Linked DNA regions of Homo sapiens: region 1 is linked to region 2. The links come from fine-mapping of genetic effects on gene expression. A gene starts in region 2. The other region holds a variant in brackets. All regions are shown on one strand. Distances are between the middles of the regions. Region 1 overlaps MARCHF2 (membrane associated ring-CH-type finger 2). Region 2 holds the start of MARCHF2 (membrane associated ring-CH-type finger 2).

Region 1 (2,907 bases), 21 kb after region 2:
ATCACACTACTATACTCCACCCTGGGTGACAAAGCAAGACCCAGTATCAAAAAAAGATAAAAAGCCTGGGTGCAGTGCTTCTGCCTGTAATCCCAGTATTTTGGGAGGCTGCAGCAGGAGGATCACCATAGCCCATGAGTTCAAGATCAGCCTGGGCAAGATGGTGAGACCCCATCTCAAAAAATAATAATAGGGGCTGGGCATGGTGACTCACGCCTGTAATCCCAGCACTTTAGGAGGTTGAGGCAGGCAGATTGCTTGAGCTTACGAGTTTGAGACCAGCCTGGGCAAAGTGGCAAAACCCCATCTCTAGAAAAAATACAAAAGTTTGTCGGCCGTGGTGGTGCGTGCCTGCAGTCTCAGCTACTCCGGAGGGTGAGGTGGAGGATCGCTTGAGCACTGGAGGCAGAGGTTGCAGTGAGCCGAGATTGCACCACTGAACTTCAGCCTGGGTGATAGAGCCTGACCTTGTCTCGAAGAAAATAATAATATTAATAAAAGAAAAAGGAAAAAAAAAAGGCTGGGTGCAGTGGCTCATGCCTGTAATCCCAGCACTTTGGGAGGCTGAGGGGGGCATATCACTTGAGGTCAGGAGTTCAAGACCAGCCTGAGAAACATGGTGAAACCCCGTTTCTACTAAAAATACAAAAAATTGGCCAGGCACGGTGGCTCACGCCTGTAATTCCAGCACTTTGGGAGGCTGAGGCGGGTGGATCACGAGGTCAGGAGTTCAAGACCAGCCTGACTAACATGGTGAAACCGTGTCTCTACTAAAAATACAAAATTAGCTGTGTGTGGTGGCACATGCCTGTAATCCCAGCTACTCAAGAGGCTGAGGCAGGAGAATCGATTGAACCTGGGAGGCAGATGTTGCAGTGAGCTGAGATTGCACCATTGCACTCCAACCTGGGCAACAGAGCAAGACTCCGTCTCAAAAAAAAAAAAAAAAAAGAAAAGAAAAGAAAAGAAAAATTAGCCAGGTGTGGTGGCACATGCCAGTAATCCTAGCTACTCGGGAGGCTGAGGCACAAGAATCACTTGAATTTGGGAGGTGGAAGTTACAGTGAGCCAAGATCGTGCCACTGCACTCCAGCCTGGGTGCCTGAGTGACAGAATAAGACTCTGTCTCAAAAAAAAAAAAAAGAAAAAAAGCCTGAATGAGAGACAGACAGAATGATGGGGGTGTGAGGTATTGTTCTAGGCCTCTGGTAGGCAGCAGAACCCTTGCTTAGAGGCAAAAGCTCCCCCAAATCTCACCCCTCAGACATAACCACTATTGTCCAGCTGTAGGGGAGTCCCTGCCTCACAAAGTATTTTTCAATGAACCTACCAGCATTT[C/CT]TTTTTTTTTTTTTTTTTTTTTGAGACGGGGTCTTGCTCTGTCACCCAGGCTAGAGTGCAGTGGCACAATGTTGGCTCACTGCCATCTCCGCCTCCTGGGCTCAAGCGATTCTCCTGTCTCAGCCTCCTGAGTAGCTGGGATTACAGGCATGTGCCACCACACCCAGCCAATTTTTATATTTTTAGTAGAGACGGGGTTTCGCCATGTTGGCCAGGCTGGTCTCGAACTCTTGACCTCAGGTATCCACCCACCTTGGCCTTCCAAAGTGCTGAGATTACAGGCATGAACCATCGCGCCCTGCCCCTACCAGCATATTTTAAAATATGTAAATAGGATGAAATCATAGCTACTGTTTTAGCATCTGCTTGTTTTCATTTTGCTGGTGTTCTTTAAAAAAAAAAACCCACACACACAACGAGGCAGCCACCCAGCAGACATTCATTGTATGGGTGGACCATATTTATTTAACAAATCACTTTTGACAGGCACTGGGATTTTTTCCAATGTGTGTGTGGTTTTATTTCTACTTCCTTGTTTTTTCCATTATGAACAGTGCTTTGGGACTGTCCATGCAAATGTTTCTTGGGAACTTGCTTGGTCAAAGGATGTGAACCACTGACCTTTATTTATTTATTTATTTATTTAGCCGGAGTCTCACTGTGTCGCCCAGGCCAGAGTGCAATGGTGCAATCTCAGTTTACTGCAACTTCCGCCTCCCGGGTTCAAGCAGTCCTCATGCCTCAGCCTCCCGAGTAGCTGGGATTAAGGCATCTGCCACCATGTCTGGCTAATTTTTGTATTTTTAGTAGAGACGAGTTTTCACCATGTTGGCCAGGCTGGTCTCGAACTCCTGGACTCAGGTGATCTGCCCACCTTGGCCTTCCAAAATGCTGGGATTATAGGCGTGAGCCATTGCGCTAAGCAACATTTATTTTTTAATTTTTTTTTTTTTTTTTGAGACAGAGTCTCGCTCTGTCACCAGGCTAGAGTGTAGTGACGCGATCTTGGCTCACTGCAACTTCTGCCTCTCAGGTTCAAGCAATTATCCTGCCTCAGCCTCCCGAGTAGCTGGGACTACAGGTGTGCGCCACCATGCCCAGATAATTTTTTTTATTTTTAGTAGAGACAGGGTTTCACCATGTTGGCCAGGATGGTCTCGATTTCTTGACCTCGTGATCCGCCCGTGTCTGCCTCCCAAAGTGCTGGGATTACAGGTGTGAGCCACCACACTAGGCCATTTTTAAATTTTTTTATAGACTAATTTTTAGAGCAATTTTAGGTTCACAGCAAAATTTAGCAGAAAGTACAGAGAGTTCCTGTATATCACCCTGCTCCATACGCACACAACTTGCACAGCCTCCCCCACTATTAACATCGTTTACCCAAGCAGTGCATTTGTTACAATCAGTGAACCTTCATTATCCCTTTAAAGCCATAGTTCACATTAGGATTCACTTCTTTTGTTTGTTTGTTTTGAGATGGTATCTCGCCCTGTCTCTCAGACTGGAGTGCAGTGGTGTGATCTCCGCTCACTGCAACCTCTACCTCCTGGGCTCAAGCGATCCTCC
Region 2 (2,907 bases):
TACAGACAGGGTTTCACCATGTTGGCCGGGCTGGTCTCGAACTCCTGACCTCAAATGATCCAAGTGCTGGGATTACAGGCATGAGTCACTGCACCTGGCCTTTGAATGGGCTCTGGGAATTACATGATAATATTAGATGAACATTAATTTTCTGATTTTGAAGGTTATACTGTGATTATGTGCAAAAGTGTGCTTATACTAAGTGAACATATAGTGCAGTATTTTTTTAAAAATTGATCTGTCTTAGAGATGGGGGTGGGTGAGTTTACTATGTTGCCCAGACTGGCCTCGAACTCCTGGGCTCAAGTGATCCTCTTGCCTCAGCCTCCAGAGCAGCTGGGACTACAGGCCTGGGCCACCACACTTGGCTAACTTTTATTTTATTTTATTTTATTATTTATTTATTTATGTATTTATTTGAGACAGAGTCTCACTCTGTCACCCAGGCTGGAGTGCAGTGGCGCGATGTCGGCTCACTGCAAGCTCTGCCTCCCGGGTTCACGCCATTCCTCTGCCTCAGCCTCCCGAGTAGCTGGGACTACAGGCGCCCGCCACCACGCCCGGCTAATTTTTTTGTATTTTTAGTAGAGACGGGGTTTCACCGTGTTAGCCAGGATGGTCTCGATCTCCTGACCTCGTGATCCGCCCGCCTCGGCTTCCCAAAGTGCTAGGATTACAGGCGTGAGCCACCGCGCCCATCCTTTTAAATTTTTTGTAGAGACGGGAACTCACCATGTTGCCCAGGCTGGTCCCCAACATCTGGCCTCAAGCGATCCTTCCGTCTCGGCCTCCCAAAGTGCTCCGATTACAGGCATGAGCCACTGCACCCGGCCAGTCTCAAAAAAAAAAAAGTTAAATTCTGCAGAGGTTTTATTTATTAGAGGACGCTGGCCGTCTGCAGGTGGCGCAGCAGCACCCCCTCGTGCCTGGGGCGGGGCTGGGGCGGGGCCAGTGCTGGGGCGGAGCCGGAGCTGGGGGCGGAGCCAAGACGCGGCAGGGGCGGAGCCAGCAGCTGCGGCACAGCGGGGCCTGTGCGGCCCAAGTCGTCCCTGTGGCCTCCGGCCCCGCCTCTTAGGGCGGGACGTGCAAGGCGATTGGCGAATGCAGGCGAGAGGCGGTCGCTATTGGTCCGCGGCGCTGTCGGCTCGGCGGGCGGTGCCCGGACGCAGGTGCCGGCCGGAGCGGAGCTAGTGGCGCCGACGGGCCGGGCCGGGCCGGGACCGGGGCCGAGGCGAACCGAGGGGCCTGTGCGGCCGCCCGGCCCGGCCGCGGATCAGGTAGGCACGGGCCTGCAGGTAGGGCCGGAGGACGCCAGTCCGCGGGCCGGCCCCGGGTTCGAGGCCGGAGCTCGGCACCCGGGCGGGACGGCTGGGCTCGATCCCTTGGCCACAGCCTTCTCGGGGACGCGGGGACCTCAGTTCCCGTGTCAAGGCCGGTGGGAGGTCTCCGGGGTCCGGCACACATAGGCGCCTCTCCGAGCCTCGGTTTCCCCACCTGTGAAACTGGGTCATCCCATTGCCAACCTGATGGGGCTTCTGGGAGGATTCAGGAGGTGGCTGGTGCAGAAAACGCCTGACACACAGTAGGCAACTGCTAAGTGGCCAATGCCCTTCCCCAACCTCCTTCTCAGAGCGGCTCTGCCTGCAAAATAGTAAGTTATAATATAATGACCCAGCCACTTTGCACAAAGATGCTGAAACAGGATGCCCTGTGCTATGTGGGTGCTCAAAACGGGGTAGTCAAATGGGCATGTTGAGCTCATTCAGTTCTTTTGAAACCATACTGAGTAGGTGGAAGCAGTAGAAATGTCCCCTGTTATACAGTTGAGAGAGTCCAGGCTCAAAGAGGTTAAGTGTCTTGCCCAGGGCCACACAGCACATAAGGAGTAGAGCTGGGATTGGAACCTTGCTTCTCATGCAGGGAGGAATGAATGCAATAACAACCTCCACATTTACCCTAAAAAATATTAATAGAGCTTTTATTGAGCACTTACTGTGTGTGCCAGGGTTGACTGTGTGACCTCTCATCAACAACTCTGTAAGCTGATGATAGTAATTATAATAAGAGCTAATAGTTATTAACTTCTTAATTTTTTACTAATTTATGAACTACATATCATTATGACTCCCCGTCTTTTTTTTTTTTAGACAGAGTCTCTCTCTCTTGCCCAGGCTGGAATGCAGTGGCACGATCTGAGCTCATTGCAACCTCTGCCTCCCAGATTCAAGCGATTCCTACCTCACCCTGGTCAAGTAGTTGGGATTACAGGCCCCCGCCACCGTGCCTGGCCAATTTTTGTCTTTTTAGCAGAAACGGGGTTTCACCATGTTGACCAGGCTGGTCTCGAACTCCTGGCCTCAAGTGATCCACCTTCCTTGAACTCCCAAAGTGCACAAAGTGCTGGGATTACAGGCGTGAGCCACTGCGCCCGGCCTGTAACACTCATTTTAGAGATGATAATACTGAGGCTGAGAGAGTAAAACAGCTGCCTGAGACCACAATGTAGGGAGTTTTAGGGCCCTCTGATTCCTCTGCCCTCTGTTTCCTACCTTCAGGAAAAGGAGCCTGGGCAGGTATGGAAAAGACTGGGGGGCCTCAGTGCCACCCTAAACAAGCCTAGCTAAGGGTGAGCTTTACTGGATGAATTCAGCCTGGAGGCTCCTTCTCAGGAGACCCCTCCACGGACAGAGTCCACCAGCTCCATCATTAGAATGAGGCCCAGAGAAGCAAAGTGACTTGAACCAGGACACCCAGCATCGGTGGCATAGCCAGGAGGGCCAGGAGTTAAAGAACCCAGGTCTCTTGAGGTCCAGAACCACTCCCTGGACTGTTTTAAGTTCAAATTCTGACACCACCCCTTCCTAGCTATATGACCTTGGGAAAGTAGGTGCCTCTCTCCGAGCTTCA

Evidence for each region. PIP is the estimated chance that this variant, and not a neighbour inherited with it, causes the effect.
Region 1: its variant is fine-mapped to the expression of MARCHF2 in prefrontal cortex (BrainSeq, PIP 0.91).

The regions. Positions count from the first base shown.
Region 1 is chr19:8,432,743-8,435,649 of GRCh38, forward strand. All of the region lies in intron 4 of MARCHF2 (membrane associated ring-CH-type finger 2), which reads left to right. Among named protein-coding and RNA genes, the nearest start is that of HNRNPM, 11 kb to the right of the region's middle. The variant C/CT (reference allele first, on the strand shown) is at 1,339.
Region 2 is chr19:8,412,144-8,415,050 of GRCh38, forward strand. MARCHF2 (membrane associated ring-CH-type finger 2) reads left to right here and starts at 1,162. Exons shown (of 5, transcript NM_001005415.2): 1 at 1,162-1,277. RefSeq lists silencers at 779-1,138, 1,169-1,328 and an enhancer at 787-1,287.